Linked DNA regions of Homo sapiens: all the other regions are reported to be linked to region 3. The links are microRNA targets in miRTarBase. Many come from high-throughput screens and were not tested one by one. Region 3 holds a microRNA gene; each other region holds the end of a gene's coding sequence.

Region 1 (10,947 bases), not on the chromosome of region 3:
AGACGGAGTCTCACTCTGTTGCCAGGCTGGAGTGCAGTGGCACGATCTCAGCTCACTGAAAACTCCGCCTCCGAGGTTCAAGCGATTCTCCTGCCTCAACCTCCCGAATAGCTGGGACTACAGGCGCATGCCACCACGCCCAGATAATTTTTGTACTTTTATTTATTTTTTTCTTTGAGATGGAGTCTTGCTCTGTTGCCCAGGCTGGAGTGCAGTAGCACGATCTCGGCTCACTGCAACCTTCGCCTCCCAGGTTCAAGTGATTCTCCTGCCTCAGCCTCCTGAGTAGCTGGAATTACTGCACACCATCACACCCGGCTAATTTTTGTATTTTCAGTAGAGACGGGGTTTCACCATGTTGGTCAGGCTGGTCTCGAACTCCTGACCTCATGTTCTGCCCACCTCGGCTTTCCAATGTGTCGGGATTACAGGTGTGAGCTACTGTGCCCGCCCTAATTTTTGTATTTTTAGTAGACGCGGGGTTTCACTACGTTGGCCAGGATGGTCTTGATCTCTTACCCTCATGGTCCGCCTGCCTCGGCCTCCCAAGGTGCTGGGATTACAGGCGTGAGCCACAGCACCTGGCCAACACTCCACATTTTATTTATATATCAGAAAACAATCAGGTAACAGTATGTATCACTGGCCATGATTTGTCTCTAGAGAGAATGGGTAAAGGAAGCAAAATTTATACTTAATATGATGCTTTGTTAAGTGACCCCAATTTCCTCCCACTTTTTAATACTGTTTTAATTGTTGTTATAAAATTAAGTGATTCCCTATCACTATATACTCAGGTAATATATTCAGGTAACTTTGATGGGACAAATTTCTAGCTTCCTGTTAGGACACACTAACATAGTCCTCATGTAATGTTCCCTCTTCAAGGCTGAGACTACGGATGATATGATCTTGACATTGTCCTGGAATGTCTTATGTCATAGCAGTACTACCACGAAAACAAAACCACAATTTTGTTTTTTCCTTTTGGTGGAGAATGGGGTCTCGTTACGTTGCCCAGGCAGGTCTCGGACTCCTGGGCTCGAGCTATCCTCCTGCCTCTGCCTCCCTAAGAGCTGGGATTATAGGCGTGAGCCACTGTGCCCAGCCACAATTTTTTTTTAATTAAAAAAAATTTTTTAGAGATGCGGTTTCATGATCGAGACCATCCTGGCTAACACGGTGAAACCCTGTCTCTACTGAAAAAAAAAAAAAATTAGCCGGGCATGGTGGTGGGCGCCTGTAGTCCTGGCTACTCGGGAGGCTGAGGCAAGGAGAATAGCATGAACCCAGGAGGTGGAGCTTGCAATGAGCCAAGATCACGTCACTGCACTCCAGCCTGGGCGACAGAGCAAGACTCTGTCTTTAAAAAAAAAAAAGAGCGAGAGATGCGGTTTCACTATGTTGCCCAGGCTGGTCTTAAACTCCTGGGCTCAAGCGATCCTCCCACTTCAGCCTCCCAAAGGGCTGAGATTACAGGAGTGAGCCACCATGCCTGGCTGACATTTAATTTTTAAAGCTTTCAAACAAAGACACTTTGGTTTTTAGAGGGTTCAGCTACCAGTTTATTGGGCCCTAGTGAGTCCCAAGATTTCCATCTACCAGTTGCTTGGGTCCTAGATTTCATATGCTCCCACAGTTGGCCCTTTGGTACAGGCAGGTGTCTCTGTCCAAATGTGGGCAAGATCAAACTGCAACAAGGCGCTTCCTTTGGTCACCTGAAAAGAAATTGTAGGTACAGTGGGCTGTCACAGCATCCTTGCTAGTTCTGGTTATAGCCATGTCACAGAGAAGGAAATTATGTAAATAATATTGAGTGACAGATGTTTTCTACTTTTTTTTTTAAACGGAGTCTCACTCTGTTGCCCAGGCTGGAGTGCAGTGGCGCAATCTTGGTTCACTGCAACCTCTACCTCCTGGGTTCAAGCAATTCTCCTGCCTCAGCCTCCTGAGTAGTTGGGATTACAGGCACCCGCCACCACACCTGGATAATATTTGTATTTTTAGTAGAGACGGGGTTTCACCATGTTGGCCAGGCTGGTTTTAAACTCCTGACCTCAAATGATCCACCTGCCTCAGCCTCCCAAAGTCCTGGGATTATAGGCATGAGCAACCGCACCCAGCCTTTTTTTTTTTTTTTTTCAGACACCGTGCCAGGCTATTTTTTATTTTTTGTAGAGACAGGGTCTTACTATGTTGCCCAGGCTGGTTTCAAACTTCAATGATCCTCCTGCCTTAGCCTCCCAAAGCACCTGGATTACAGGTGTGAGCCACCATACCCAGCTCTGCTGGGTTTCATTGGTGAGTTTGTCTTCCTGGCAAGGGATATACAGGATACCCTTGCACATCATCCACAACCATTCAAATACCATGTTGTGATTGCTAATTTTATGTGTTAACTTGACTGGGCCACAGTGTGCCCAGATATTTGATCCAACATTATTCCAGATGTTTCTGTGAGGGTGTTTTTGGATAAGGTTTTTTTTTTTTTTTTTTTTTTTTGAGACTGAGTTTCACTCTTGTCGCCCATGCTGGAGTGAGTGGAATGATGCAATCTCGGCTCACTGCAACCTCCACCTCCTGGGTTCAAGTGACTCTCCTACCTCAGCCTTCCAAATGGCTGGGATTATAGGAATGTGCCACCATACCTGGCTAATATTTGTGTTTTTAGTAGAGACTGGGTTTCACCATGTTGGCCAGGCTGGTCTCAAACTCCTGACCTCAGGTGATCCGCCCACCTCCACCTCCCAAAGTGCTGGGATTACAGGTCTGAGTCATCGTGCCCAGCCTGGATAAGATTAACATTTAATTTGGTATAGAAGTAAAGTAGATGACCTTCCCTAATGTGTGTGGGCCTCATCCAATCAGTCGAAGGCGTGAATAGAACAAAAAGGCCAACTCTTCCCCAAGTAAGACAGAATGCCCACCTTTGAACTGGGATGTTGTCTTTTTTCCTGCTTTTGGACGCTAACTGAAACACTGGTTCTTCCTGGGTCTTGAGCCTGCTGGCTTTTGGACAAGAACAACAACATTGGCTCTTCTGAATCTCAGGCCTTCACATTTGAACTGGAACTAAACCATTGGCTCTCCTGGGTCTACAGCTAGCCAATTCACCCTGCAGATCTTGGGACTTGCCCACCTCCATAACTGTGTGAGCCAATTCCTTATAATAAATCTTTAGGCTGGGTGCAGTGGCTCACACCTATAATTCCAGCACTTTGGGAAGCTGGAAGCTGAGGCAGGAAGACTGCTTGAGCCTAGGAGTTTGAAACCAGCCTGGACAACATAGTGAGATCCTGTCACTAAAAAAAAAAAAAAAAAAAAAAAAAGAATCTTTATACACATACACACACACCCTACTGACTGCTTCTCTGGAGAACCCTGACTAGTACAAGGGGTCCCTAATTTTCAAGGGCTCATACCCTAATCCCAGATCTACCAGAAGAATGAATCTGCCAAAGGAGTGCTATGACGGCCTGGAGCCCTGAAGCAAAATGGCAAACACGTAACATAAGACTGCACCAGAAAGTCAGACATGATTTGTCAGCCTTTATTAATCAAGAGTAAAGCCGAGCCCTAGGGTTTCCTTAACAACAACAAAAAGAACATCAACCTTGTTTATGGCAAACAGTGACTTAATTCTTAATGACTGTTCATTATATGTTTAACACCACAGAGCAAGAATTGATCACGTTTCAATCACTTATTCTTCTGAGATTAAAATACAAGATTAAAACAGATTAAAATAAAATTCACTCCAAGAATTTAAAAAATAATTCCAAATGAAGGACATTTCAAACACTGTATATAGAACTCAGGACCAAAAGAAGACCTTAAAACATTTTTTACCTTTGAGGTAGCACAATAATGCTGAATTAGATTTATTTTATTACAGTGAGCTTAAAAAAACAACACGGAATCTACCCTTTGCTCAAGGTGGGCTAAATGGTTTTACGCAAACCCCTCCATGAGGTTAGTGACAGTTCTTGTCCTTTTTTTTTTTTTTTTTTTTTTTTTTAAAGTATAAAGATAGCCCTGCAGTGTGTAAAAGGAAACCTATGGGAAGGCTGCTTCCCATAAAATAGACAATAGAATCATTGAGGAACGTCAGCAGTCAAGACAGGAGGAACAAGAGGTCATTGTAGTGAAAAACCAAAACAACTTGTATCTTGGCAAGATTGGTTTACAAGTTCATGACAAGAACAAAAATTCCAACATCAGCCAACTGAAAATAAAAGATAAAAGATGACATTCATGGATCTTTTTATTTTTCTCTGTGCAAAATGCTCTTCTTTCTGAATTAGAGGGTAGCTTGTACACTGTGACATGACATGAAATGCTGTGTGCCCAGGGTGCTGCTGGGTGCCAACAGCACCTCTCACTGAATACGATATCACTGTGTGCAGAGAAAACGGGCAATCAGAGGATAAACATAACCTCTCCTGGCTGGAGAACCATTTCTTGCGACTTTGCTGCTGAATTCACTCATTAAACTGCTCAAAGGAAAAGCTCTACCCTGATTTCTGAGAGTCTACAGCAATATATGTAACACAATTATATATGAAGACTATTGACTAACAGGACAATAGCACATGAACCTTTCCTTCAGAGAATTCAACCAAGAGAAGAGAGTGGGTGGCATAAGCTGGGGGCCAAAAGGAAGGCTCTCAGGAATATTCTCTACCATCCAAAATCAACAGCAAAGCCAGAAAAGGGGCATGAGCTCTAATTCATTGAAGAGAACACCACAAAACAGTTAACAAAGGGATCTCTTTCCAACACATGCTCCTCTCCATGAGGCTCAACCGTCAGTGCAGGGCTTGCCTGATGTGGACAATGTGGATACCTCAGCCCTGAGTTGAACTTGGCATGCCACCTTTGATTCCCCATGCTGCAAAAAGAATTGGAACGCTGTCAGGTCCTGGCACCGTGGTAATGGCTATATCCTATTTCACTCACACACGTCCTTTTAAAGTCTCCCTTCCTCAAGCTATTAAATAGAACCCTCTAGGGATCCTGTATGCAGTGAGGGTCTGAACTGATGATCCATATGTCAATCAGTAGTTGGAGGAGGATGACTTTTTTTTTTTTTTTTTGAGATAGGGTCCCACTTTGTCCCCCAGACTGGAGTGCAGTGGCACGATCATGGCTCACTGCAGCTTCAGTCTCCCAGGTTAAAGGAATCCTTTCACCTCAGCCTACTGAGTGTGCACCACCAGGTCCAGCTAATTGTTTTTTTAACTTTTTTTTTTTTTTTTTTTCTTGGTAGAGACAGGGTCTCCCTCTGTTGCCCAGGATGGTTTGGAACTCCTGGGCTCAAGCAATCCTCCCACTTTGGCTTCCCAAAGTGCTGAGATTACAGGCATGAGCCACTATGCCCAACCTGAGCAGGATGACTTAAACCTGATCAATTCTACTCCAAAACAGCAACTATCATTAAGTCAGGGGTGTCAAGGAGGACTCTGTGAAGGCAAAGACTAGACTGGGATGTGTGCGAGAGTGGGATAAGAAGGCCCATCCCTAGCAGACTGCAGGAGTGACTCTGGCATAGAATTCATGGCCAGCCCTAACTAGTGTGATGGGTGGCAGGGAGGAGGCATCTGCTCAGTGTTCAAACAAAATCCTTACAAGTTCTGGGGCTGGACCTCTGTGTCACTCCTGAATCCCAATGTATCCGTTACCTTTACAAGAAACTGGTGTGGTTCTTGTCTGCTAAGGGCAAGACCTGTTTTCTGAATTTACTTTCTGATAATAAAGTAACACCATGGAAAAGAAGAACCTCAGAAAAATATGGGGTCACCACATGGGCTTTCCCAGTGCTAGCTGCCTGTTTTGGAAAGCTGCAATGTAGGCTACAGAGGGCAGTCTGAAAAGAGTCCTTCTGCTTTCGCTTCCTGGAGCTTAAGAAGAAAAGAGGAATTACCAAGGTTGTGGTGGGTTATTTACTCTGGAAATATCTTGGTCACACTGTCCGTGGCAAAAGCGGAAAGCCTAGCTTATGTGGATAGTTGAAGGTGACTGTGTGGGCCATCATTATCTACAATAGAAATGACTCAAGCCCTAGCATGTAATCTCTTAGGGACTTAACAAGTTAAAAAGAAACAAAAAATCATATTGGAAATGGCCTCTTGGTTTAATATAAACTTGGTTACAACATTCAAATTTATCTTTACGGAAATTTCACACTGCTCCTAGGAGCCCTTATAGCATCTGATTCTAAGTTATTCTGAAGGAAAAAAAAATTATTCTGAAATATACCTTATTAGGATGATCACTGGAATTCTACCAGATATAAGTAAAAGGCTAAATGGGTTTTAAATAAATACAAGCTAAATTACCTTCTTCTGGGGTTAACAATTAGAATCCCAAATACCCCAACATCTCAACTAGAAAGGCCTTCACAGTAATTCTATGAAATTGTAAATGATGCCAAATTTTTTTTTTTTTTTTGAGATGGAGTCTTGCACTGTCACCCGGGGTGGAATACAATGGTGCAATCTCGGCTCACTGCAACCTCCACTCCCAGGTTCAAGCGATTCTCCTGCCTGAGCCTCTCAAGTAGCTGGGATTACAGGCGCCCACCACCATGCCCAGCTAATTTTTTGTATTTTTAGTAGAGACGGGGTTTCACTATGTTGGCCAGGCTGGTCTTGAACCCCTGACCTCGTGATCCGCCCGCCTCGGCCTCCCAAAGTGCTGGGATTACAGGTGTGGGTCACCGTGCCTGGCCAATGCCAATTTTTGAAAACAGATTTGATCTTTAGGGTAAATGCCTGAGTCAGCTGACAAACTCCATATACATGAATATGTCCAAGTGAAATTACCTAAAGAATAATTTTTTTTCTTTCTTTTTTTTTTTTTAAGAGACAGGGTCTCACTGTGTCACCCAGACTGGAGTGCAGTGGCATGATCACAGCTCACTGTTGCCTTGACCTCCTGGGCTCAAGTGATCCTTCCACCTCAGCCTCCTAAGTATTTGGGACTACATGCATGCATCACCACACCTGACAAATTAAAAAAAAATTTTTTTTTTGCCAGGTGCAGTGGCTCACATCTGTAATCCCAGCACTCTGAGAGGCTGAGGTGGGCGGATCACCTGAGGTTGGGAGTTTGAGACCAGCCTGACCAACACAGAGAAACCCTGTCTCTATTAAAAATACAAAATTCGCCCGGCATGGTGGCGCATGCCTGTAATCCCAGCTACTCAGGAGGTTGAGGCAGGAGAATCACTTTAATCTGGGAGGCGGAGGTTGCGGTGAGCCAAGACCGCACCATTGCACTCCAGCCTGGGCAACAAGAGCGAAACTCCGTCTCAAAAAGAAAACAAAAAAAAAATTTTTGTTTTTGTAGAGACAGGATCTCACTCTGTTGCCTAGGCTGGTCTTAAGCGATCCTCCCAGCTCAGCCTCCCAAAGCACTACAATTATAGGCATGAGCCATTGAGCCTGGCCTGAGAATTTTCTTTAATTTCAAAAAAATAGCTGCTGCTTCTTTAAAGAGTTTAAAAATTGATCGGTTCAATGGCAAAGCTACACAACAACTCTGGAGTAGAAGGAAAGAACTCTCTTTATAGTACAACCTCTTTCCAGCATACTGCCATCAGCTAGTAGAGGCAACTGCAAACAAATGGTAGGAGTTGCCCAGGAAGGTATTTGGGCTGGACAAAGTGATAGCAACCCTCCAGACCCTGGCTCCTTATAAATGTATAGCAATTCATTCATACAAACTGCACAGAGGTTAAACAAAACCTACTAAAAAAATTAAAAAATCCCACAAAATCCCCAACCCAGAAAACGTTTCCTGGCTCTCTACTAACAGTAAAATGTGCTGAGCCCAAATTTTCTGCTCTAACATGGGTCCCACGGACCTATCAGTCTGCTCTGGGGTGCTGACCTGCTGGGTCCTGAGCAGGGTCTTTCCCTAAGCATCACTGTGGGTTTGGAGACAGCTGTAATGTGTGCAGCTGTCAGCAGAAAGTACAATGCCACTGGGCTACATATGTCCATATCATCCACCACCATTTCCCACTGTAAAACCAAAGGCTGCAACTGTGAACAAATGTGGACTTCCTCAAAGGACAAATGAGGAGACTGAAGGCTACATTTCCTCCTTTGAGAACCATTAGAGAGTGTCTACAGTTATACAACAGGTTTCTGCAGACCCTGTGGTAACTTCCAAAAGCAAGAGTAGCAGCAAGAGAGGAAAGGAGCATGTTTATACTTTGGACTTTGTATCAGGCACTTAAATTGTTGGAGAGACATGCCGTTTTGAACCAAAGATATAAAAACTGGGTTGGAGTAATCTTTACAAGTGGTCTAATGAATGGGCCTTCAGAAGCAAAGTGGAGGTGTGGGTTGAACCTCTGCCCATCCTTTAGTGCTGACTTTCAAGTTTTCTAAATGCCCATAACCACAGCAATGGCAGCAGTGGCGGCAACGGCAGGAACAGTTCTGTCATGTCTGTTTTCTGTATGTGTTCTGTGGCTGACCAGAAGGTTTTGGTGTCACACTAAGAAGGCTCTGGGGTGTGGCACACCTACTGCCCGAGGTTGCCCAGATCCACGCTGGAGCCAAACATCTTCACCAGCTGTTCCTCATAGTGTGAGATGTTCCTCTTCATGATGTCCATGCAGGGCCCCAGAAGCCTCTCGAATGCTTGTACATCCATAACTGCATTGTTAAAAAGAGGTGAGGGAGAGAATGAATTCAAGCCATTTCCCTCATGCAAACCTTTTCCTAAACATACCCATTCATGTTGTATGAGATTACGCCTTGGGACACCAGCCACTTGCAAAAAGGGATGTTTCTATATGAATTCAGAAGACTGTCATCCAGGTTAGAGACTTTACAGAGTCCAGCAGCTCCTGTTCTCCCCATTCTCCCACAGCCCTGGACATCAGTTCTTTTCATACGGCTAAAGAACCTGCATGCCTGTCTTGCTCACAGGCTGTCATCAGTACTCAGAAATGTTTGCTGAAAGCATCCATTCATCCATCTCTGGTTGGTCACATAAACTGCCTAGGCCTAGACAGCAGTAAAAGATGGCAGAATATGTCAAGGCTTGCTGATGGGAAAAAAATATTACATGTTAGAAAAAGAATATTAATGCATAAAGAACTTTTCTTACCTAAGCATTTGACATCTCCAACTGCATAAGCTGAGGCAGCTCTGGGTTTGTTGGTGACCAGGGCAAGCTCTCCAAAGTACTGCCCCTTATGGCAGCGGGCAATCTCGACCTCCTGGTTCCCACCATCCTTGTTTGATTTAGTCTACAGCAGGCAAAGAACATGACCTAGGCTGACTCCAGGATCACAGCTGGGCATGTCCAGTTGCACACACATACACTGTTCTCAGCATACTCTACACAATTACTGAGGAATTCACTTTGCAGAAAATTCACTAACTGTACCATGTAAACTCCATGGACTAATCTCAGTGGTCTGGTTTGATCAGAAAAGTCTGCTTTTTACCTAGAGCTCGGAGTCCTAACATTTTCAAGGTAATCTACAGCCATACCATTCTGAACATGCCCAATCTTGTCTAAATAAGGACAATGCTTCTCTTAGGTAATGAGCCACAAACTTGGGCTATTTCTCTGATTTGAGACTGCGCCTTGAACAACATTTTACAGTGACAAAATCCCCCATGCCCCCCACATTTTTTTTTAAGAGACAGGGTCTCACTCTGTCACCAAGGCTGGAGTTCAGAGGAATGATCACAGCTCATGCAGCCTTCAACTGTTGGCCTCAAGCAATCCTCCCATCTTGGCCTCCCAAAGTGCTCGGATTACAGGAGTGATTCACTGCTCCTGGCCAACAAATTTCTTTTTAAGTACTATTTGTACCTTAAGTTAGTGGTTCCCTCCTCCTTTTTTTTTTTTTTTTTTTTTTTTTTTTTTTTTTGAGATGGAGTCTCGCTCTGTCGCCCAGGCTGGAGTGCAGTGGCGCAATATCCGCTCACTTCAAGCTCTGCCTCCCAGGTTCATGCCATTCTCCTGCCTCAACCTCCCAAGTAGCTGGGACCACAGGCGCCCGCCACCACGCCTGGCTAATTTTTTTGTATTTTTAGCAGAGACAGGGTTTCACCATGTTCGCCAGTATAGTCTCCATCTGCTGACCTCATAATCTGCCCGCCTCGGCCTCTCAAAGTGCTGGGATTATAGGCACTCCCCCCTCCCATTTTTTAAAATAAGAGTTAAGTAACTAAATTTAAGATAATATACTACATTATATTAATATCTAGAGGTTTTTTTTTTTAACAAATCCAACTGCTAACCAAAGTGATAATTTAAGTAAATAATTGTTTAGAATTTATTAGTAAGAATTAGTCTCAATCTCTAAGAACCACTTTATGTTGTAGGCAGAAAGATAATTTCCTTTTTGGTTAATTTTTAAAAGAAACAAAACTGCTACACTAGCTTACACGGTTTGACCCTTCTTCCTTCTACACTTCTGCCCTGTTGCTCTGAAGTTGGTCTGTTTCATCTGAGCCAACTTTCCCTTTCCAATTTCAGTAGTATTCTCTGGAGTTGCAGCCATATTCGTGCCCACTTAGTCCCTTCTCTAAAACAGAAGGGACTTATCACACTGTCACATACACACCAGCTCCCGTATTACGCAGGTTTTCTCGCAATGCACATTCTGATTCAGTAAATCTGGGGAAAAGCCAGGACTCTGAACTTCTGACAAACCACCCATCCCCAATATCCCAGTGCCATGCTGCTGCTGATCTTATGCACCTAACACTATGCTGTGATCATAGCAGGTGTCAATGAATATCTGAGAAATCTACAAACATCACTAGTCCAAAAACTGTAAGTAAAATGACACAGACATTTCAAACTATTGTTTTCTTTTTTTTTTTTTTTTGAGCAGAGTCTCACTCTGTTGCCCAGGCTGGAGTGCAGTGGTGTGATCTCAGCTCACTGCAAGCTCTGCCTCCTGGGCTC
Region 2 (10,947 bases), not on the chromosome of region 3:
CTCTCTTCTAGCTATGGAAATTTACAGTACTTTGTTAACTACAGTCACCCTACTCTGCTATTGAACATTACAAGTTATCCCTTCTTCCTAAGTGTATGTTTGTACCCATTACCCAACTTCTCTTCATCCACCTCTCCCACCCACGTACACCCTTCCAATCTCTGGTATCATTCTACTCTCTACCTCCATGAGATCAACTTTTCTAGCTCCCACATGTAAGTGAGGACATGTGATATTTGCCTTTCTGTGTCTGGCTTATTCACTTAACATAATGACCTCCAGTTCCATCCATGCTGTAAACATGATTTCATTTTTTATGGCTTAAGTCCACTGTGTATATATATCATATTTTCTTTATTCATTTGTCCCCTGATCAACACTTAGGTTGATTCCATATCTTTGCTATTGTAAACACGGCTCTACAGTAAACACGGAGATGCAGGTTATCTTTTTTATATACTGATTTCTTTTCCTTTGGATAAATTCCAGGTAGTGGGATTGCTGGATCACATGGTAGTTCTTTTTTTTTTTTTTTGAGACGGAGTTTTGCTTTTGTTGTCTAGGTTGGAGTGCAATGCCCTGGTCTCGGCTCATTGCAGCCTCTGCCTCCCAGGTTCAAGTGATTTTCCTGCCTCAGCCTCACAAGTAGCTGGGATTACAGGCACCCTCCATCACACCCAGCTAAATTTTGTATTTTTAGTAGAGAAGGGGTTTTGCCATGTTGGCTAGGCTATTGTGAACTTCTGACCTCTGGTGATCGACCAGCCTTGGCCTCCCAAAGTGCTGGGATTACAGGTGTGAGTCACCATGCCCAGCCCACATGGTAGTTCTGTTTTTGTTTTTTTCAGACATCTCCATATTGTTTTCAGTAGTGGCTGTACTAACTTACGTTCCCACCAACAGTGTGTAGGAGTTCCCTTCTCTTTTTTTTTCTTTTTTTTTTTGGAGAAGGAGTTTCACTCTTGTTGCCCAGGCTGGAGTGCAATGGCACAATCTTGGCTCACCACAACTTCTGCCACCAGGGTTCAAGCGATTCTCCTGCCTCAGCCTCCCAAGTAGCTGGGATTACAGGCGCGTGCCACCACTCCTGACTAATTTTGCATTTTTAGTAGAGATGAGGTTTCTCCATGTTGGTCAGGCTGATCTTGAACTCCCGACCTCAGGTGATCCACCCACCTCAGCCTCCCAAAATGCTGGGATTACAGGCGTGAGCCACTGCGCCCAGTCAAGAGTTGCCTTCTCTTAGCATCCTTGCCAATACCTGTCATGTTTTGTCTTCTTAATAACAGCCATTCTAACTAAGGTACGATAATATCTCATTGTGTGCTTTTTTGTTTTTGAGTCAGTCTCGCTCTGCAGCCTAGGCTGGAGTGCAGTGGCGCAACCTCAGCTCACTGCAACCTCCCCCTCCTGGGTTCAACCGATTCTCCTGCCTCAGCCTCCTGAGTAGCTGGGATTACATACGTGCACCACCATGCCCAGCTAATTTTTTTGTTTGTTTGAGATGGAGTCTCGCTCTGTTGCCCAGGCTGGAGTGCAGTGGCGCGATCTTGGCTCACTGCAAGCTCCGCTTCCCGGGCTAACGCCATTCTCCCGCCTCAGCCTCTGGAGTAGCTGGCACTACAGGTGCCCGCCACCACGCCGGCTAATTTTTTGTATTTTTAGAAGAGATGGGGTTTCATTGTGTTAGCCAGGATGATCTCGATCTCCTGACCTCATGATCCACCCACCTCGGCCTCCCAAAGTGCTGGGATTACAGGCGTGAGCCACCGCGCCCAGCCACCCAGCTAATTTTTGTATTTTTAGTAGAGATGGAGTTTCACCATGTTGGGAAGGCTGATCTCAAACTCCTGACCTCAGGTGATCCGCCCACCTCGGCCTCCTAAGCTGCTGGGATTATAGGCGTGAGCCACCAGGCCGGCTTCATTGTAGTTCTGATTTGCATTTCCCTGATGATTAGTGGTGTTGAGCATTTTTTCATGTACCTGTTGACCATCTGCATGTTTTATTTTGATTCTCCTTCTATTATGATTATTATTATTAATTATCATTATTATTGAGACAGGTTCTCACTCTGTCACACAGGCTGGAGTGCAGTGGTATGATCACAGCTCACTGCAGCCTCAACCTCCCTGGGTTCAGGTGATCCTCCCACCTCAGCCTTCAAGTCGTTGGAACTAGAAGTGTGCAACACCATGCCTGGCTAATTTTCGTTTTTGTAGAGATGGGGTCTCTCCATGATACCCAGGCTGGTCTGGAACTCCTGGGCTCAAGTGATCCTCCCACCTCAGCCTCCCAAAGTGCTAGGATTACAGGTGTGGACCACCATGCCCAGCCTATTATTGTCATTTTGAAACAGAGTCTCACTCTGTCACCCAGGTTGGGGTGCAGTGGCAAGATCAAAGCTCACTGCAGCCTGGAACTCTTGGGCTCAAGTGATCTATGCTCCCACTTCCACCTCCTGAGTAGCTAAGACTACAGGTGAGTGGCTATTTGGATTCTCCTTTTAAACAGAGTAGCAACTTGAACCAAAAATACTTTTGTTTCTTCAGATCCTATGTTGTAAATCACTTCTCTTTGAACTAAGTATGCAGAAGACTTAAGAAGATGAAGCTGAACAATAAAAATATTAACTAAACAGATTGAAAGAAACTTTTTTTTTTTTTTTTTTAGATGGAGTCTCGCTCTGTCGCCAGGCTGGAGTGCAGTAGTGGGATCTTGGCTCACTGCAACCTCCAACTCCCTGGTTCAAGCGATTCTCTTGCCTCAGCCTCCTGAGTAGCTGGGATTACAGGCACGCATCACCACACCCAGTTTTTGTATTTTTAGCAGAGACAGGGTTTCACCATGTTGGCCAGGATGCTCTTGATCTCCTGACCTCGTGATCCGCCTGCCTTGGCCTCCCAAAGTGCTGGAATTACAGACATGAGCCACTGCACACTGTACCCGGCCTGTGGTTTTTTTTTTTTTTTAAGACAGAGTCTCACTCTGTGGCCAAGGCTGGAGTGCAGTGGTACAATCTCGGCTCACTGCAACCTCTGCCTCCCGAGTTCAAGCAATTCTCGTGCCTCAGCCTCCCAAGTAGCTGAAAACAGCACAACCTGCTAATTTTTGTATTTTTAGTAGAGATGGGGTTTTGCCATGTTGGCCAGGCTGGTCTCAAACTCCTGGCTTCAAGTGATCCACCGTCCTCGGCCTCCCAAAGTGCTGGGATTACAGGTATGAGCCATAGCGCCAGGCCTGAAACAAACTTTCAAGTAAGACTAAAACTGTTCCGTGTAGCTGATGAGTTGTTTTTCCTGCCACTCATTATAAAAATACAAAAATTGGCCGGGCACAGTGGCTAACACCTGTAATCCTACCACTTTGGGAGGCTCAGATAGACAGATCACTTGAGCCCATGAGTTCAAGACCAGCCTGGGCAAAACCCCATCTGTACAAAAAATACAAAAATTAGCTGGGCATAGTGGCATATGCCTGTAGTCCCAGTTACTCAAGAGGCTGAGATGAGAACGAGAAACACCTGAGCCCAGGAGGTCGAGGCTGCAGTGAGCCGTGACTGTGCCACTGCATTCCAGCCTAGGCTATAGTGAGACCCTGTCTCAAGAAATAACAAGAACAACAAAATGCTCTTGCTTTCAAATTATTTTATTGCCCATCAAATTGTAAATGTTTCTTCAAGACTCTTGATCAGATAATTATGAGAAGTCACACAACATACAGGAGATGACTGGGCTTCAATCGACTTTACTTGTCAATAACAGAGTACAACTGAACTTTAAGTGGGAGCTGAATTTCTTTCTTTCTTTTTTGAAACAGAGTTCCACTCTTGTTGCCCAGGCTGGAGTGCAATGGCACGATCTTGGCTCACTGCAACCTCCGCCTCCTGGGGTCAAACGATTCTCCTGCCTCAGCCTCCCGAGTAGCTGTGATTACAGGCATGTGCCACCATGCCTGGCTAATTTTGTATTTCTTTTTTTTTAGTAGAGACAGGGTTTCTCCATGTTCGTCAGGCTGGTCTCAAACTCCTGACCTCAGGTGATCTGCCCACCTTGGCCTACCAAAGTGCTGGGATTACAGGTGTGAGCCACTGCGCCTGGCTCTTTTTTTTTTTTAATAGTGTCTTGCTGTTACTCAGACTGAAGTGGCGCCATCATAGCTCACTATAGCCTCAAACTCCTGGGCTCAAGCTATCCTCCTTCTTCACCCTCCCCCACCATGCTCGGCTAATTTTTAAAATTTTTAGTAGAAATGAGGTCTTGCTGTTTTCCAGGCTCGTCTCAAACTCCCAATCTCATGCAATCCTCCTGCCTCAGCCTCCCAAAGTGCTGGGATTACAGGTGTGAGCCACTGTACCCAGCTGAGAGCTTAAGTTTCTTGCATAAAACTCAGCTGTATGCTGAAGTGTTTAGAAGTGAAATGTAATGATGTCTGCAACTTACTTTGAAATACATTAATAAAATGGATAAATGAATGGATAGAGGGATGGATAGGCAGATTGACATGTGTAAAACAAATAGAGAAAAATGTTATTTGTAGAATCTAGGTGATGCTAAAGGCCACACAGCCAGTGGGGACTGAGCCAAGCTAGGAATCCAGGTCCACCAATTCAGGAGAGGCTATGTGGTGAAGTAAAGATAACACCCCGTTCCCAGTTTTTGTATCTGTTTTTGTTTTGAGACAGAGTCCTGCTTTGTAGCCCAGGCTGGAGTGCAATGGAGCCATCTCAGCTTACTGCAACCTCTGTCTCCCAGGCTCAAGTGATCCTCTTGCCTTAGCCTCCTGAGTAGCTGGGACTACAGGCATGTGCCACCACGCCTGGCTAATTTTTTGGTAGAGATGGGGTTTCACTATATTGCCCAGCTGGTCTCAAACTCCTGACCTCAAGTGATTAACCAGCCTCAGCCTCCCACAGTGCTGGGATCACAGGTGTGAGCCACCGTGCCCGGCACCAGTTCCCATTAATTATCTTGGAACCCAAGGATTCAAAGAAGCAGTCTTTTCAAAGAGATATTTGAGTCACTGACCACCAGTCCTGGAATGCAGAAATGCTTAGTCCCACCTACCTCTTTTGTTCATTCCTTCAAAAGTTTCCTCTTCAAAAGTAGGGCTAGCAGATCTAAATGGGCCAGAAAGAACTCTCTTAACTGTTGTTTTTTGTTTTGTTTTGTTTTTTGAGACTGGAGTCTCACTTTGTCGCCCAGGCTGGAGTGCAGTGGCGCGATCTCAGCTCACTGCAAGCTCCGCCTCCCGGGTTCATGCCATTCTCCTGCCTCAGCCTCCCCAGTAGCTGGGACTACAGACGCCCGCCACCATGCCCGGATAATTTTTTGTATTTTTAGTAGAGATGGGGTTTCACTGTGTGAGCCAGGATGGTCTTGATCTCCTGACCTCGTGATCCACCCACCTCAGCCTCCCAAAGTGCTGGGATTACAGGCGTGAGCCACCACACCAGGCCTTTTTTTTTTTTTTTTTTTGAGATAGAGTCTTGCTCTGTTGCCCAGGCTGGAGTGCAGTGGCGCTATGTTGGCTCACTGCAACCTCCACCTCCTGGGTTCAAGCCATTCTTCTGCCTCAGCCTCCCAAGAAGCTGGGATTACAGGTGCACGCCACCAGGCCTGGCTAATTTTTTTTTTTTTTTTTTGAGACGGAGTCTCGCTCTGTCACCCAGGCTGGAGTGCAGTGGCGCAGTCTCGGCTCACTGCAAGCTCCGCCTCCCGGGTTCACGCCATTCTCCTGCCTCAGCCTCCCAAGTAGCTGGGACTACAGGCACCTGCCACCACTCCTGGCTAATTTTTTTGTATTTTTAGTACAGACGGGGTTTCACCATGTTAGCCAGGATGGTCTCGATCTTCTGACCTCGTGATCTGCCCGCCTCGGCTTCCCAAAGTGCTGGGATTACAGGTGTGAGCCAACGTGCCTGGCCGTTTTTTTTTTTTTTTTTGGTATTTTTAGTAGAGATGGGGTTTCACCATATTGGCCAGGCTGGTCTTGAACTCTTGACCTTAAGTGATCCACCCTCCTCAGCCTCCCAAACTGCTAGGATTACAGGCGTGAGCCACCGCGCCTGGCCTTCATAACTGTTGACATACAAGCATTACAGTAAAAATTAGACTGGAAAGACTATGCCTTGATTTCAACTTTAATCACAATTAATTTATTCTTTCTTTAAAAAAAAAATGTAATCCCAGAACTTTGGGAGGCCAAGTCGGGTGGATCACCTGAGGTCAGGAATTGGAGACCAGCCTGGCCAACATGGTGAAACCTGTCTCTAGTAAAAATGCAATTAGCCAGGCATGGTCGTGGGTGCCTGTAATCCCAGCTACTCAAGAGGCTGGGGCAGGAGAATCGCTTGAACCTAGGAGGCGGAGGTTGCAGTGAGCCAAGATCATGCCATTGCACTCTAGCCTGGGCAACAAGAGCGAAACTCCATCTCAAAAAAAAAAAGAGGCTGGGTGCAGTGGCTCACGCCTGTAATCCCAGCACTTTGGGAGGCCGAGGCGGGAGGATCACGAAGTCAGGAGATCGAGACCATCCTGGCTAACACGGTGAAACCCCCGTCTCTACTAAAAATACAAAATATTAGTTGGGCGTGGTGGCGGGTGCTTGTAATTCCAGCTACTCGGGAGACTGAAGCAGGAGAATGGTGTGAACCCAGGAGGTGGAGCTTGCAGTGAGCGTAGCTTGGGCCACTGCACTCCAGCCCAGGCAATAGAGACAGACTCTGTCTCAAAAAAAAAAAAAAAAAAAAGAATCCTCCGGCATTATATCTCCAGCTACTGTGGCCCAAGAATATATCTTTATCAAAAAATACAAAATCCAGGGAACATGCAAATATCTGAAGAAGAAAAAAACACTGCAATCACTAATGCATACAGTGAAGAGTTGGCCCAGTTCCAGAGTCCGCTATGTTTGATAGTTTGTGCACTTGCAGAATGAGAGTGGGGGGGGAGTTCCCCACCTGAGGCCACTGTCCTCTCTATGGCCACCTCTAGGTCTTCAAGACCAAGGAACACCTACACTCCAGGTGTCTCCTTGCCAGATGTTTCACCTGCATTGGTAAAAGGCAGAATCCTCGGCAGGGGTCGGTGGCTCACGCTTGTAATCCCAGCACTTTGAGACGCCGAGGCGGGTGGATCACGAGGTCAGGAATTCAAGACCAGCCTGGCCAAGATGGTGGAACCCCGTCTCTACTAACAGCACAAAAATTAGCTGGGCCTGGTGGCGCATGCCTGTAATCCCAGCTAATGGGAAGGCTGAGGCAGAGAATGGCTTGAACCCAGGAGGCAGAGGTTGCAGTGAGCCGAGATCACGCCACTGCACTCCAGCCTGGGCGACAGAGCATGACTCCATCTCAAAAAAAAGAAAAGAATCCTGGGATGAGCTCCGCCCCCCCCACCAGCCGAGGGACAGGCCTGAGGTATCCCCTCTATTCTGGGGGGTCCAGAGTGGGTGCAGGCTCCTTTAATAGGCACTGGAATGTAGGGGACCCCATCTCAGAGGAGTAGGAGAGATACAGGCCAAAAAGCAGAGAGCTACAAGGGAGAGAACAATCATGAAGGAAAAGCCAGTTAGGTGAATGGTTTTCAGTGAAGGATGGGACGTGAACACGGGGCCCTGTGTGCTGGAGCTTCAGAAAATGGGGTCAACCCCCAGGCACCTTTTCAGATTCCTGCCTCCTCCCCACAGCCCTCTGTGCCCCTACCTCTGCTTTTTACCTAAGGCAGAACTTTGTTTTCCTCAAACGCCCACTTCCTTTCCTTATCCCCCAAATACACAAACCTTGCCTCTTCCTCTCCAGGGAAACGCTGACCAGTTTGTGTGAACGCCATCACCCACACTCTTGAAATATATCTGGAAAGTGCCGGAAGTGAACTGGGGGATCCTTGCCTCCCAAAACAGGGATGGGCTCTGAACGCCCCACCACGGCCTGCTGCCACGCGCGCCTCTCGCTGCAGGAGCGGTGGATCCACCGATGGGCTTCCAGGGCGGTCTTGCGCTTGAAGCCTTTCCCACACTCCACGCAGGGGAAGGGCCGGCTGTCGGAGTGAATGCGCCGGTGACTGAGGAGGAGGGAAGAATAGGTGAAGCGGCGGCCGCAGTCAGGACAGGGGTAGGGCTTCTCGCCGGTGTGTATGCGCCTGTGGATGGCCAGCAGGGAGGTGTAGGCGAAACGGAGGCTGCAATCGGGGCAGCTGTAGGGCTTCTCGCCCGTGTGCTTGCGCTGGTGGATGGCCAGCAGGTAGGGGTAAGTGAAGCGACTCTTGCAGTCTGAGCACGCGTAAGGCTTCTCCCCGGTGTGAGCCCGCCTGTGGATAGCCAGGGAACCCCTCTGGCGGAAGCGGCGCCCGCAGTCGGGGCAGGGGTAGGGCTTCTCGCCGGTGTGGATGAACTGATGCTGGAGCAGGTACCTGCGCTGGGAGAAACGCGCCTGACACTGGCCGCAGGAGAAGGGCCGCTCCCCGGAGTGGACCCGCTGGTGGCTGGCCAGGAGGGAAGGGTAGCTGAAGTTGCGGCCACAGTCTGGGCAAGAGTGGGGCAGTCTTCGGGTCAGAGTGTCCTTGAGCCAGGGATTCATGGGGCTCTGCCTAGGGTTGCAGAACTCTGGGCAGGCGACGCTGGGCCACCACTCCTTGACAGCCACTTCATGCGCCACCTCTTTTTGTTTTGGACACTTCTTCAGCCTTTCCTTCTCCTCATTCCCATCCCTGGATCCTGAAACAGGGAAGATGATAAAATCAGAAACTCATCCCTGGATCCTGAGACAGGAAAGATGATAAAGTCAAAACCAGCATATTCCGGGACCATGTCCTGCCTTGGAAGGCAGCAGGAATGGTTCAGAATATGGCGCCCAGGGAGCACGGCTTAATGATAGGGGCCTCATGAAGCCCTGAAAGCCAGCCTGGAGTAAAAGCAAATGCCATGGTCTGCAGGTTAACACAAGAAGGCCCTGAGCACTGGAGATAATGAAAGAGGAGTCGGGCCGGGTGCCATGGCTCACACCTGTTATCCAAGCACTTCAGGAGGCTGAGGTGGGAGGATCGCTTGAGGCCAGAAATTCAAGGGACAGTGAGCTGTGATCGGGCCACTGCACTCCAGCCTGGGCAACTCTCTAATAAAAAAAAAAAAAAATGCTGGGCGTGGTGGCCCATGCCTGTAATCCCAGCACCACTCTGGGAGGCTGGGGTGGGCAGATCACCTGAGGTCAGGAGTTCGAGACCTGCCTGGCCAACATGGGGAAACCTTGTCTGTACTAAATTACAAAAATTAGCCAGGCGAGGTGGTGGGCGCCTGTAATCCCAGCTACTTGGGAGGCTGAGGCAGGAGAATCCCTGGAACTGGGGAGGTGGAGGTTGCAGTGAGCCAACCTCGTGCCACTGCACTCCAGCATGGGCGACACAGCAAGACTCAGTCTCAAAAAAATAAAAAAAGAAAAAGGAGTGAACAATATTGAACGCTTAACTCTGTGTCAGGCTTTGAGGACACAGTGATGGTCCCAGTCCTCATGGCACTTACCATCCTGAACCTGTTTATGATCCCTTTACAAAACAGCCATTCAATGACCTTCTTTGGTACCAGCTCAAATTCTTTTGGCACCTTTCCTCTCTGCTCTTACCATCACCAAAAAGTCTACACTTGCTGGTGGGGCACAGTGACTTACGCCTGTAATCCCAGCACTTTGGGAGGCAGAGGCAGGTGGATCACGAGATCAGGAGTTCAAGACCAGCCTGGCCAAGATGGTGAAAGCCCGTCTCTACTAAAAATACAAAAATTAGCTGGGCATGATGGCGGGTACCTGTAATCCCAGCTACTCAGGAGGCTGAGGCAGGAGAATTGCTTGAGCCTGGGAGGCGGAGGTTGCAGTGAGCCTAGACCATGCCACTGTACTCCAGCCTGGGCAACAGAGCGAGACTGTCTCAAAAAATAAGTCTACACTTGGACTGCCTCACTAGGTTCCACGGGAAGACCTTCTGGGAACAAGCATTTATTCTGGTATCAGGGCTGCAGGAAAAACATTTCTCTTCATTTAAAAATCTAATTAATGGTGTTATTTACTACACGTGGTTCACATCATTAATATCCAAGAGGAACATCTGTCTTCATTTTATCCCACAACAAAAATCAAATTACAGGTTTCCCCTTTCCCTTGACCTCCTAGGAAGCTCAAGCTCTATTTTGCATTAAACTGAGGTTTTCCAGTATGGTTAATCGGTTCCATAGATCCCAATTTCGCTGTTCCATCGGGCCATTTTGCAGTGAGATGAGGACGTTTCTGGGGTAGGGTGCAGGGAGACAGGATGGGACTTTGGAGGGGGCAGCCTGCGCTGAGGATGTGAGTGAGTTGGGGGCGGGGGTTGGGGCTTCTCCACGGCTACTTATCCAAATGAAGTACCTGCTTCCTGTCCTTGGCCCCTGCTGAAAGCTGCAGAGCTCTCACCGTCGGGATCCTGGGCCTCCGGGCTCCACGCCTCCACTTCTCCTTCCACCCACGAGATAAAAGCGGGTTTGGGAACTGAAAATCCTGCGAAGGAGAAACAATGGGCTCGGCTGAGCGCACGGGAGGGGAGAATGAGACTGCTCCCTCGGCGCCCCGCTTCCAGCCCACTAGCCTCTGGGGACACCGATCACCGCTTCCCACCGACGGACTGGGGGTCCCGGCCGGAGGGCCCGGCCTCACCCAGCGCGCCCAGGTGGCCGAAGGTCTCCCGCATCACGTCCCGGTACAGGGCCCTCTGCGCTGGCCGCAGGCATTCCCACTCCTCGGGAGAGAAGTACACGGCCACGTCCGCGAAGCTCACGGCGCCCGGCCTGCTTTCCCTCGTCCTCCGGGGCCCGGCCTCCCCGGGTACGTGGGCCGGGCGCGGCGCCAGGGGCGGCCCCATGGGAAACCCTTTCTGCCTGGCAAAGGGAGGCTTCCGGGGAAGGTGGAGATGCTGGCGCTTTCCT
Region 3 (10,947 bases):
GGCAAAGGATATGAACAGACACTCCTCAACAGAAGACATTTATGCAGCCAAAAGACACATGAAAAAATGCTCATCATCACTGGTCATCAGAGAAATGCAAATCAAAACCACAATGAGATACCATCTCATACCAGTTAGAATGGCGGTCATTAAAAAGTCAGGAAACAACAGGTGCTGGCGAGGATGTAGAGAAATAGGAACACTTTTACACCGTTGGTGGGACTGTAAACTAGTTCAACCATTGTGGAAGACAGTGTGGCGATTCCTCAAGGATCTAGAACTAGAAATACCATTTGACCCCAGCCATCCCATTACTGGGTATATACCCAGAGAATTTTAAATCATGCTGCCGTAAAGACACATGCACATGTATGTTTATTGCGGCACTATTCTCAATAGCAAAGACTTGGAACCAACCCAAATGTCAATCAATGATAGACTGGATTAAGAAAATGTGGCACATATACACCATGGAATATTATGCAGCCATAAAAAAGGATGAGTTCATGTCCTCTGTAGAGACATGGATTAAGCTGGAAACCATCATTCTGAGCAAACTATCGCGAGGACAGAAAACCAAATACTGCATGTTCTCACTCATAGATGGGAATTGAACAATGAGAACACTTGGACAGAGGGCGGGGAACATCACACATGGGAGCCTGTCATGGGGTGGGGAGAGGGGGGAAGGATAGCATTAGGAGATATACCTAATGTAAATGACGAGTTAATGGGTGCAGCAAACCAACATGGCACATGTATACCTATGTAACAAACCTGCACGTTGTGCACATGTGCCCTAGAACTTAAAAGTATAATAATAAAAAAAAAGAAAATGAATGTGAACTTATTCTTTGAGGAGAGCCATGCCCTAAAAGATGAAAAGCAGCTATTCATCACAATGCAAGACTTCAGAAAATAGTTAATGATCATGAAAGTTGGCCTGTTCTTATGGACTACGTGTGTGCAATTGCCCACAATCTACCCTTGTAATATATTTTTAATATGCTGAATTTTCTTTTTAGTTTTTTAGTTTTTTTCTTACTTTTCCCCCACTATTTTAAAGTATCAGCATTATTTTTTACAATTTGCTATGCTAAGTATTTCTCTTTGCATCATTTCTAATACTAGAGGTATAAACCATGTAAAGACTTTTGGAGAGTTTTGATTTGTTTTATGCATTTTTTTTGCAAATTTGACTTCCCAAAAGTGCATTATCACAACACTGATTGTGTGTAACCATTGTGCTTGTATGTAAAAACACCAAAGCTTTCTCAATAAGTGAAGATATTTCCTCTTCATACAACTGCATTTGTGAAAGGTAAAATTTTTTGAGATCTAGGCTCTTTGCACGACTGCATATGCAGTGGTGACCCATTGCAGTTTTTGATTCATCTTATCAAACGACATAGGTCATCTGTCACAGTATTTCAGATAACTGAAATTATAAACATGGGTGCACACAATTACCAACCATAGTGATCTACATTTATACATTTTGCTTTTGACCTATTTCTTTGTGAATACAGTTCATCTGCTTATAACTGTTATATCTGTGCAACTGTTGTTAGTATATCTAGTGTTTATGCTTGAAAAACATATAGTTATTATTGCCTATTTCATTTTGTAAAGTGGCCTATGAAGTGTTCTGGTATATTTCTCAAACAAAGACCCTTTTAAAACATAAATATTATTAAAGAATTTTTAAAAATTATTTTTTCCAGAATTACATTTTCAGGATTTTGATTTTTTGGCATTTCAGCATTTGGAATTATGCTCCTGATTTATGCTCCTGAATTATGCTCCTGAATCATGCTCCTGATTTCAGGTGATCTGCTCACCTGGGCCTCCCAAAGTGCTGGGATTACAGGTGTGAGCCACCATGCCCGGGCCTTCTTTTCTTTTCCTTTCCTTCCTTCTTTCTTTCTTTTTTTTTTCTTTTCCTTTCCTTCCTTCTTTCTTTCTTTTTTTCTTTCTTTTCTTTTCCTTTCCTTCTTTCTTTCTTTTCCTTTCTTTCTTTCTCTTTCTTTCTTTCTTCCTTCCTTCCTTCCTTTCTCTTTCTTTCTTTCTCTTTCTTTCTTTCTTTCTTTCTTTCTTTCTTTCTTTCTTTCTTTCTTTCTTTCTTTCTTTTTCTTTTTCTTTTCTTTTCCTTTCCTTCCCTTCCCTTCCTTCTTTCTTTCTTTCTTTTCTTTTTTTTTTTTGAGACAGGGTCTCACTGTGCTACCCAGGCTGAAGTGCAGTGGCATGATCATAGCTCACTGCAGTCTTGAACTCCTGGGCCCTCCTGCTTCACCTCTCAAGTAGCTGGGACTATAGGTGCATGCCACTGTACCTGACTAATTTTGTTTGTTTTTTTGTTTGTTTTGCAGTTTTTATAGAGAGAGGGTCTTGCTATGTTGATCAGGCTAGGCTCAAACTCCTGGCCTTAAGTTATCCTGCCTCCTCAGCCTCCCGAAGTGCTGGGGTTATAGGCATGAGCCATCATGCCTGACTGTTCTTTTCTAATATGAGCATTTAGTGCTATAAATTTACCTCTATGTACTGCTTGGTCTGCATCCCACAAATTTGGATATGTTGTATTTTCATTTTTATGTATTCTAAAATATACTGTATTTTCCCTTGAGATTTCTTTTTTGACCTAGAGATTATAAGTGTGAAATTTAGTTTCCAAATATTTGCAGTTTTTTCCAGATATATTTCTGTTACTGATTTCTATTTTAATTCCATTTTTGGTCAGAGAATATACTTTGTATGACCCAAATCCTTTTAAATGTATTCAGACTTGCTTAATAGCCCAGAATATGGTCTGTCTTTGAAAATGTTCTATATGCACTTGAAAAGAATTTGTATTATGTTGACCTTTTTGTTTGTTTGTTTTTTGGTGGAATGTTCTCTGAATGTCAATTAGATCAAGTTGGTTGATAGTGTTATTCGAGTTGTTATTTGTACTGATTTTCTTTCTGTGTCTATTAACTACTGAGAGGGAAGTGTTAAAATATTTTATTATAATCATGTATCTGTTAATTTATCCTTGCAATTTTTCCATATTTTGTTTCATGTATTTTGAAGGTTAGTTGTTACAAATATAAGCATTTATGATTCCTATCCTATGTCCTCTTGATAATTTAGCACCTTTATTTTTACTAAATGGGAAACAGCTTTATCCCTGGCTAAATACTTTTTGCTCTGAAATCTGCTTTTTCTGATATTAATATAGCCACTACAGCTTTCTTAAGATTACCGTTTATATCCTTTTGCTTTTCACTTATTTGTATCTTTTTACTTAAAGTGGGTTTCTTATTGGTAGTATTTATTTGGGTCTTGCTTTTCGCTTATTTTTAATCAAATCTGGACATCTCTTTCTTTTAATTGGGATGTTTAGACCATTTACATTTGATATGATTATTGAGATGCTTCAGTTTAAATATAGCATCTTGGTATTTGTTTTCTATGTCTCATCTGTTTTTTGTTCTATTTTTCTTCTTTTTCTACCTTCTTTTGGACTAATTCAGTATTTTTAAAAAGTATTCTATTTATCTCCTCTACTATTTATACTATAAAATGTAAAATAAGGACTAAAGTAACACAATAAAGAATTATGGATAATATTTATGGATAATAATATTTATTATCCATAATTCTTTACTGTGTCACTTTAGTTCTTATTTTACAGTTTATAGTATGTACATTCTTAATTATTAATTTTTACTATTATCTACAAATAAAACCCAGGGTTTATGATTAATGGCCAAAAATACAGTAGGTTAATTTAAGGGAAACGGTGGAAATATTTATTTTTGAAAAATAAGTTTGGGAATAGTCAAAACACTCCAAGAATTATTCAAAGTTAAGAGAAGGAAAGGAATGTGTGTGTGCATATATGCATGTTTATGTTTGTAAGAAGTAAAGTTTGGATAATCTGACTTCTCTACTTTTACAAAACAACAACAAAGCCTTTCCCTCTGCCATTCATTCACTCATTCATTCAATAAATATTTGTGGGTACCTAGTATAGACCAAGTGTGGAACATTTTTACTATTCAATGTCTGCCCTGCACTGTATAACTTTGGAAGTTATACAATAAGTCAGAATAACTTTCTGGTGAAACTTCCTGGAGGAATTTACAATATGATAAAGGAAATAGTATATCTCTTCAAGTAGAGACCCATTGCAAAAGCACAGCACAAAATTTGGTACTTACCCTAGGTGGCGTGCACTGGGTTAAGGGAGGAGTGGTTAGAATGACTTTGTTGAGTGTTGAATGCCCTTTAAAATCACATTTGACTTTTGTAAATCCAAATTCTCTTTCTTGATGAGATAAATGGCAAAGCCTTAGGCTTGTTCATAAATTCATTTTTTGGAAATATTTATCTAGTTTTTCTAGTGTCAATCATGGGGCAGCTGCTGAAGATTCAGAGGTAAACAAAGCAGACCTCTTCCTGTGACATGCAGTTCAAAATGCCCCTGTCACCTATGCTTGGAGATGTAGGGTGACTAGAATGATGTGCCTTCTGGCAGACCCAGGTGTTCAGACCAACTCCTGCCACTTGGGATGGGCAGAAATGTCTTCTGTGTGAGTGCAGAGAACCATCCCCCACCAGGCAGTTGAAGTAATGGAGGGATTTAGTAACTCCTACCCCTCCAGCCAGAACTATCCAAAGACAAAACTGACTTTCTTGAAGGATAAAAGTTTCTGTCATGGGGGCTATTCAAGTACTGGCTTAATGACCACTTGGTAAGAATGTTGCTGAGGGAATTCAGACATCAACTGATGGGAGTGAGACTGGACAACCTTACAGCTGGAAGGCATGTGATTTAATGAACTCCATGATGCCCAATCCCCAGGGCTCTGGCATTTCCTGTCTGTAGCTGTAAGGCCAGCTGGGCTCGCCTCACCATCTGCGGCCAACCCATCATCCAGAGTCACATTAGAGGACTGGGTGGCCCGATGTCTACCCAGACAGGCAGTCAACATACCCTGGGGCTTACTGTAGAATCTTGAGCCCTTGAGATAAACCTGCCGCCCTGCCCCACATGTGCTGGACAGCATTCCTCCTCCTCAAACCCTAACCCCAGCGGGCTGCTTCTTTCCGTGACCCTGGGGTCACTGTGGCTTAAGTCTTGCAAGGCTGGAACCAGACAGCAGGGCAGGCTGTTTCATAAGTGTTCCTTGGTCTGTCCAAGTTTGTACTTCCTTTAAAAGATCTTTCAGTTGTTATTTTTTGTTTTCCCCCTTCTTTTCATTAACTTGAAAACAGCAAATCATATTTTGCCAAGGGAGAAAAACCCTCCCTCACCCAAGAGATTCCTTCTTAATTCAGCCCTTAGTAAACATTGTTTCTGATTGGATTTCTAGCCCGGCCTGGCACTGGTTCTACCAATGAGATCACTAACAGAATTTGAGAAAAACATTTGGGACCTGTGGCCTTGATTTGAAAAATCACCCTGTCTCTGTTCTGTTGTATTGCAGATGAGGAGACAAGAGATGCTTACGGTGTGTGTGTACAGAAGGGCACACCTATTGTTTACAGGTGTTGAAATAGAATGTCAACTGTCATGACAAGGAGGGCCTTAACCAGCAGGCCACTGCATCACCATGTTGAATGAACTCAACTCCAAACATGTTAATGTAATATGAAACATACCGATGGTGATCGGGCCCCAACTTTCTCTCTTACTTCCTCTCCTGCCTATATGCCTATCCTTTCCTCAATAATTGGCCAAATTGCTTCAAATTATTGCCTTTAGCAATGCTACTTACATGTCTCCAAGAATTCTGGTTAAAAGGAGTGGGTACCATGGGATGGATTTCTCATTAACTGATTAGTACCCATCTTAGCAGGACTTGCTTTATCTCATAGTCTAGCAGAGAACTATAGAGTGGAGGTGGGATGGGACTAAAACAAGAAGATTTTGATGGAGAGGGGAGGTGAAGCAAAGAACCTGATGTGAGCAGAGTCTAGGGAAGTAAGCAGGAAGGTGAGTGACCCAGGAAGAGCAGATGTAAGGATTGAATGACAGGGTGAACATGGTGGCAAGTGTGAGCATTTTCTGCCTTGTCTCACCCAAGGGTATCTCCCCAGTAGGTATTTAGACTATTCCTCCACTCACCCTTGTAGCCTACCAAGAGCAACATGATGAAGGGCTTCTTGGCCACTGCTCAAGGGCTACTTCCTATTAGATAAAACAAGGAAACAACAGAGGTAAAACCTGCTGGCTTCCAGGTACAGCCCAGGCTCATATCCAGGAGTCCTTGGCTAGACTTTTGTGTGGCAGATAGGGCACTGGGCTTGGAGTCAGAAGACCTGGCTCCAGCCCAGCTCTGCCATGGACCAGCTATGAGATCTTCAGGCAGCCTCAGTCCCTTCATCTGTCTAATGACATCAGGCTTCTGCATCCTCCCTTTGGGAGACCTCACATACTTCTGTGACACCATCTACAGCTACTATGCCAGAGTCCCCTAAATCCATATCACCAAGCCAGACCTCTCCCTTGAGTTGCCGAGCCCTGAACCCAAACTTCCCCAAACATCTCTGTTTGGGATTTATATGTCCCTAGAACTCAGCATGCCCAATCAATCGTTCACTTTCTTCCCAAACCTGTTCCTCTTCCTCATCCTACTTAGGTGAATGGCACCATCATCTACTCATGGGCCCAAACAGAAATCTGGATGTTTGCCCCAGCTTCCCCTACACCATTCACAGTCATCCAGTCACAAGTCCTGTATGTCCTCTTAAATATATCCTGAACCATCCCTACTCCCCATCCCCATTCCCACTGCTCTGAATGAAAATCTCTTCTCTCTCCTGGACCACTCAGGATCTTCCTGGCTTATTCCCTCAGTCCAGCATCTGCACTGGCTGATTACTCTTTTTTTTTTTTTTTGAGATGGAGTCTCGCTCTATCCCCCAGGCTGGAGTGCAGTGATGTAATCTTGGCTCACTGCAACCTCCTCCTTCCAGGTTCAAGTGATTATCCTGCCTCAGCCTCCTGAGTAGCTGGGATTACAGGTGTGTGCTACCACGCCTGGCTAATTTTTGTATTTCTAGTAGAGACGAGATTTCACCATATTGGCCAGGCTGGTCTTGAACTCCTGAACTCAAGTGATCAGCCCGCCTTGGCCTCCCAAAGTCCTGGGATTACAGGTGTGAGCCACTGCACCTACCCATTCTGATTACTCTTTCTAAACTGCACAGCTCATTCATGTACCTGCCTTACTTAAAACCCTTAGCAATTACCTATTTATTTCCCTAGGGTAAAAATCCAAATTTCCTTACCATGTCCTGAAATATACTCACCTGTGATCTGGCCCCGAGTTCCTCTCTGGATTTATCTCCTGTCCACCTCCCCTCCCACACTTCACACTCTACTTCAAGCCATACTCAGCTGCTCAAAGCACCACACTTGGGCCACGCTTTCTCTTTTATAACTTGAATGCCCTCCTGCTTGCCTGGCATTCCTTTGGTCCCCTTCTTTGCCTGCTCAGCTCTGACTCCCATCAGGAATGAGACCATATTCCTCAGGAAACCTCCCTGGTTCTCCTGAGCCAGAATGGACTCCCTCTGTGCTCTCTTAAGTTGTGGTGCCCTCCTGCCATGGCAGCTAGGCCGGGGCATTGCCTGTTTCCCTTGGTGTTCTGTGAGCTCCTCAAGTGTGGGCAGCACATCTTAGCTTGTTCTGTCTCCCCAGGGTCTGGCATGGTACCTAGCCCTTGATTAGTGCTTGCTGAATAAATGAATGATTGAGTCTCTGTCATCTCACAGAGTACTTGCAAGAATTAAATGACATGTGAAAATACTTTGTAAACTGTAAATGTGTTAGGGACATTTCTGAGAGTCAAGGGGTTTAGAGAGGAAATGAGCATGCTAGGCCTCTGGACAGTGAACCGAAAGGATGTTGAGCTGTGGTGTTCTAGGAGAGTACCAGGACTGCTCTGGACATGACATACTACCTGGGACTACTTGTGAAAGGAAATGAGCATCCTGAGAAATCACTTTGGGTCCTGTGTACTCAGGGAGGATTGTTTTTATATGGTTCTGGTTTGTTCAGGAAGCACAGTCTGTCCTCCAGTCAGGCACTCAGTGAGCAAATGCATTTGTAGCTTGAGGCCAGAGCTTCCTTATGTTTATATGACTCTTTATTAGGTGAAACATGCAGCCTCTTGGAACAATAAACTGTCTTTGTTACAGATGTACACTAGATTTTGATGGCATTTTTCCAGGGACCCTGGGAGCATCTGTGTTCTCGTGTTCTTCTTGCCTGTGAGGCCTCTTCTCTCTGAGGACAGATGGTAGGACAGAGAGAAGACAGCAAATGGAAAACAAAGGCTGCTATTTTTTTGTGGGGTGTGTACAATATCTATTCTACATCTCTGCCCATCCCCATTTTCTCCTCCTCCAGAGAGCATACAATTAAGGCTATAAACTGAAGTGGAGCCCCCATTATTTACCCCTAAAAATGAATACAGATCTCAGCCTCTCATTACCCCTTGGTTAGAAAGAGAGAGCATTTTGGTCTGTTTGGGCGACTATAACAAACATACCTTAAACTGGGTGGCTTTTAAACAACAGAAATTTGTTGCTCACAGTTCTGAAGACTGGTAAGTTCAAGATCAAAGCACCAGCAGATTTGGTGTCTGGTGAGGGCCCACTTCCTGGATCATAGATGATGCCTTCTTGCTGTGTCCTCACATAGTAGAAGGGCAAGGCAGCTCTCTGGACCCCTTTCTTTCCTTTTCTTTTCTTTTCTTTTTTCTTTTCTTTTCTTCTCTTTCCATTAATCCGGTCCATGAGGGCTCCATCCTTATAACCTAATCACTTCTCAAAGGTCCCATCTCCTAATACTATCGAGTTGGTAATTAGGATTCAACATATTAATCTGTGGAGGAAGGGGACACAAAAATTCAGACCATAGCTGGTAGTGATGAAGATAGAATGAGCCAGGTCCCAATGTGGGGCCAGGTGTGAGGGGGGCAGTAGCTGGTCATGGACATGTGGATGTTTGCTGAGTGATGGGTGAGCAAGTCCCTGCCATCTCATAGGGACACTGTAAAAACTGCCCTCTTGATGACCTTAGCAGTGCAATCATATTAGCAATGACATCCACCTTGAGGAGGGAAAAGATGGGTGTGAACAAGAAGGATAGTTTCTTTCTCCTTACAGCATCCATTATGTAGCATAAAAATTAGGGCCCCCATGTATCCAGGAAAGCAGTCAGAGCATTCATTATTCAATAACCATAGGTGCTTATTCCATACTGTTATGGACTGAATCGTGTCACCTCCAAATTCATATGTTGAAGCCCTAACTACCAATATGACTGTATTTGGAGATAACACCTTCAAGAAGGTAATCAAGGTTAAATGAGGTCATAAGGATTGGATCCTAAGCTGATAGGACTGGTGTCCTTATAAAAAGAGACACTAGAGATCTCTCTCTCTCTTTGTATACACAGAGAAAAAGTCATGTGATGACACACCAAGAAGGTGGCTGTCTGCAAGCCAGGAAGAGAGGCCTTACCAGAAACCAATCCTGGTGCACCTTAATCTCAAACTTGAGCCTCCAGGACTGTACGAAAATAAATATTTGTTGTGTAAGCACCCCCAGTGTATGCTATTCTGTTATGGCAGCCCTAGCACACTAATATAAATGCCTACTGCCTGCAAAGTGCTTTGCCTTTGAGGGTTGCAAAAGAGGATCCCCTCCAGGGATCCATGGTCTCATTGGGATTTTCCTGTTTGGTCTGTGTCCTGTTCTTGAGTCTCCGCAGGCAGCATTTCTTCCTGTGACAATATGGTGTAAGACAAAATTGTGGCCTGCCATGAAGTTGTGAGAGAAAAGCATCCCTCATTTCTTCAGGAAAGGCCACTGCCGTTCCCTCCGGCTCCTCTTCTCAGGAGTTTGTGCATTCATGAGGTAAGTGACAGAGTCACTCTCAAGCTCCTGCTGTATAAAATTTCTGTAACAAATAGATGCTTGTCCCAGATGGCTCCAGCCAGGCTGATGGGGAGGATGTGGGTTCCCTAGCACTTCCCAGTTTGCAGCATAAGTGTATTAAAACTTCCATGTCTTACTTAAAATAGAACTCCTAAAGGCACACACATAACTTCAAGTTTTCTCAGCATTTCATGACTTTTTTTAAAAAAAGCTTGGACCAATTCAGTTTTCACTCTTGCAAACAGGGTATAAAAGCTTCTGTTTCTTCCCCAATGTCAACGCTTGGTAATCTTATTCTTCTTCCCAGTTTTATTTTAAAAGTAATGCCCACATGTGATGGAAGTTACACTCAAATAGGACAAAACACTATGCAAAGTCTCCTTCTCCTTGTCCTCACTCCCTCCCACTCCCAACGGCAATCCACTTTAACCAGTTCTGGTTTCAGTTCGTTAGGTGGTTGCCACAAAATACTGAGTAATATGCTTATACCTCTCTTTTTTGATTTATCAACTTTCAACAGTATTTATTGACTCCTGCCACATGAGGGTGTGTGTTATCCTCCACTGCCTCTGTGTCTTTCCATCTTCATAATTTTAGACTGTATTCCACTTGATTCCTTACAAGAAAAATGAGGAACTCATTACCCCATTTTCCCCTCCACCCTTCCTACTTCCTTCACCTTCTAACTTCTGCCTTTCCTGGATTCTCTTTTGTATTTACTGGGTTTGTAATAATTATATTCTACTCTGAAACCATAGTTAAGTCTTCCCTGCTTTGTTTAAAATTTGATTCTAAATATTGAAAACCAATATACAGTTTCTTCCCCAATGTCAATCCTGTGAATATATAAAAATTATTTACTGAAGAATGAAGTAAGAAATAAATAATCCTAGGCAATGCAAAAGAAAATGAATTCTCTTTTCCTACCCTAATCAGTTTTTCCAAACTATGTCCTAATTTAGGTTGCTTCTAATTCTGATTTTTGTTTTATTCTGGGGCTCCTATTTGCTT

What was found. Region 3 holds the annotated microRNA hsa-miR-378g (ACUGGGCUUGGAGUCAGAAG, at 6,285-6,304, shown strand). A microRNA usually pairs through its seed, bases 2 to 8, with sites in the 3' UTR of a target mRNA and lowers its output. Matches are read on the target gene's strand: a 7mer-m8 pairs with bases 2 to 8, a 7mer-A1 pairs with bases 2 to 7 and ends in A, and an 8mer does both.
Region 1: miRTarBase lists PRKAR2A as a target of hsa-miR-378g. Seed matches in the 3' UTR shown: 7mer-m8 at 7,988-7,994, 7mer-m8 at 6,937-6,943 and 7mer-m8 at 5,311-5,317.
Region 2: the mRNA of ZNF785 is a reported target of hsa-miR-378g. The part of its 3' UTR that is shown has no 7-base or 8-base seed match.

What each region holds. Positions count from the first base shown.
Region 1 is chr3:48,743,050-48,753,996 of GRCh38, forward strand. PRKAR2A (protein kinase cAMP-dependent type II regulatory subunit alpha) reads right to left here. Exons shown (of 11, transcript NM_004157.4): 10 at 9,127-9,268; 11 at 3,537-8,669. The coding sequence ends at 8,536. Among named protein-coding and RNA genes, the nearest start is that of IP6K2, 31 kb to the left of the region's middle.
Region 2 is chr16:30,574,729-30,585,675 of GRCh38, forward strand. It overlaps ZNF785 (zinc finger protein 785), which reads right to left. Exons shown (of 3, transcript NM_152458.7): 1 at 10,679-10,947; 2 at 10,394-10,522; 3 at 5,928-8,715. The coding sequence starts at 10,883. The coding sequence ends at 7,832. It also overlaps a transcript of ZNF688 not described here. Among named protein-coding and RNA genes, the nearest start is that of ZNF785, 5.5 kb to the right of the region's middle. RefSeq lists an enhancer at 10,167-10,767 and a silencer at 10,774-10,903.
Region 3 is chr1:94,741,237-94,752,183 of GRCh38, reverse strand. It overlaps MIR378G (microRNA 378g), which reads left to right and starts at 6,284; the gene lies at 6,284-6,324. The region is part of intron 1 of SLC44A3-AS1 (SLC44A3 antisense RNA 1); the gene reads left to right.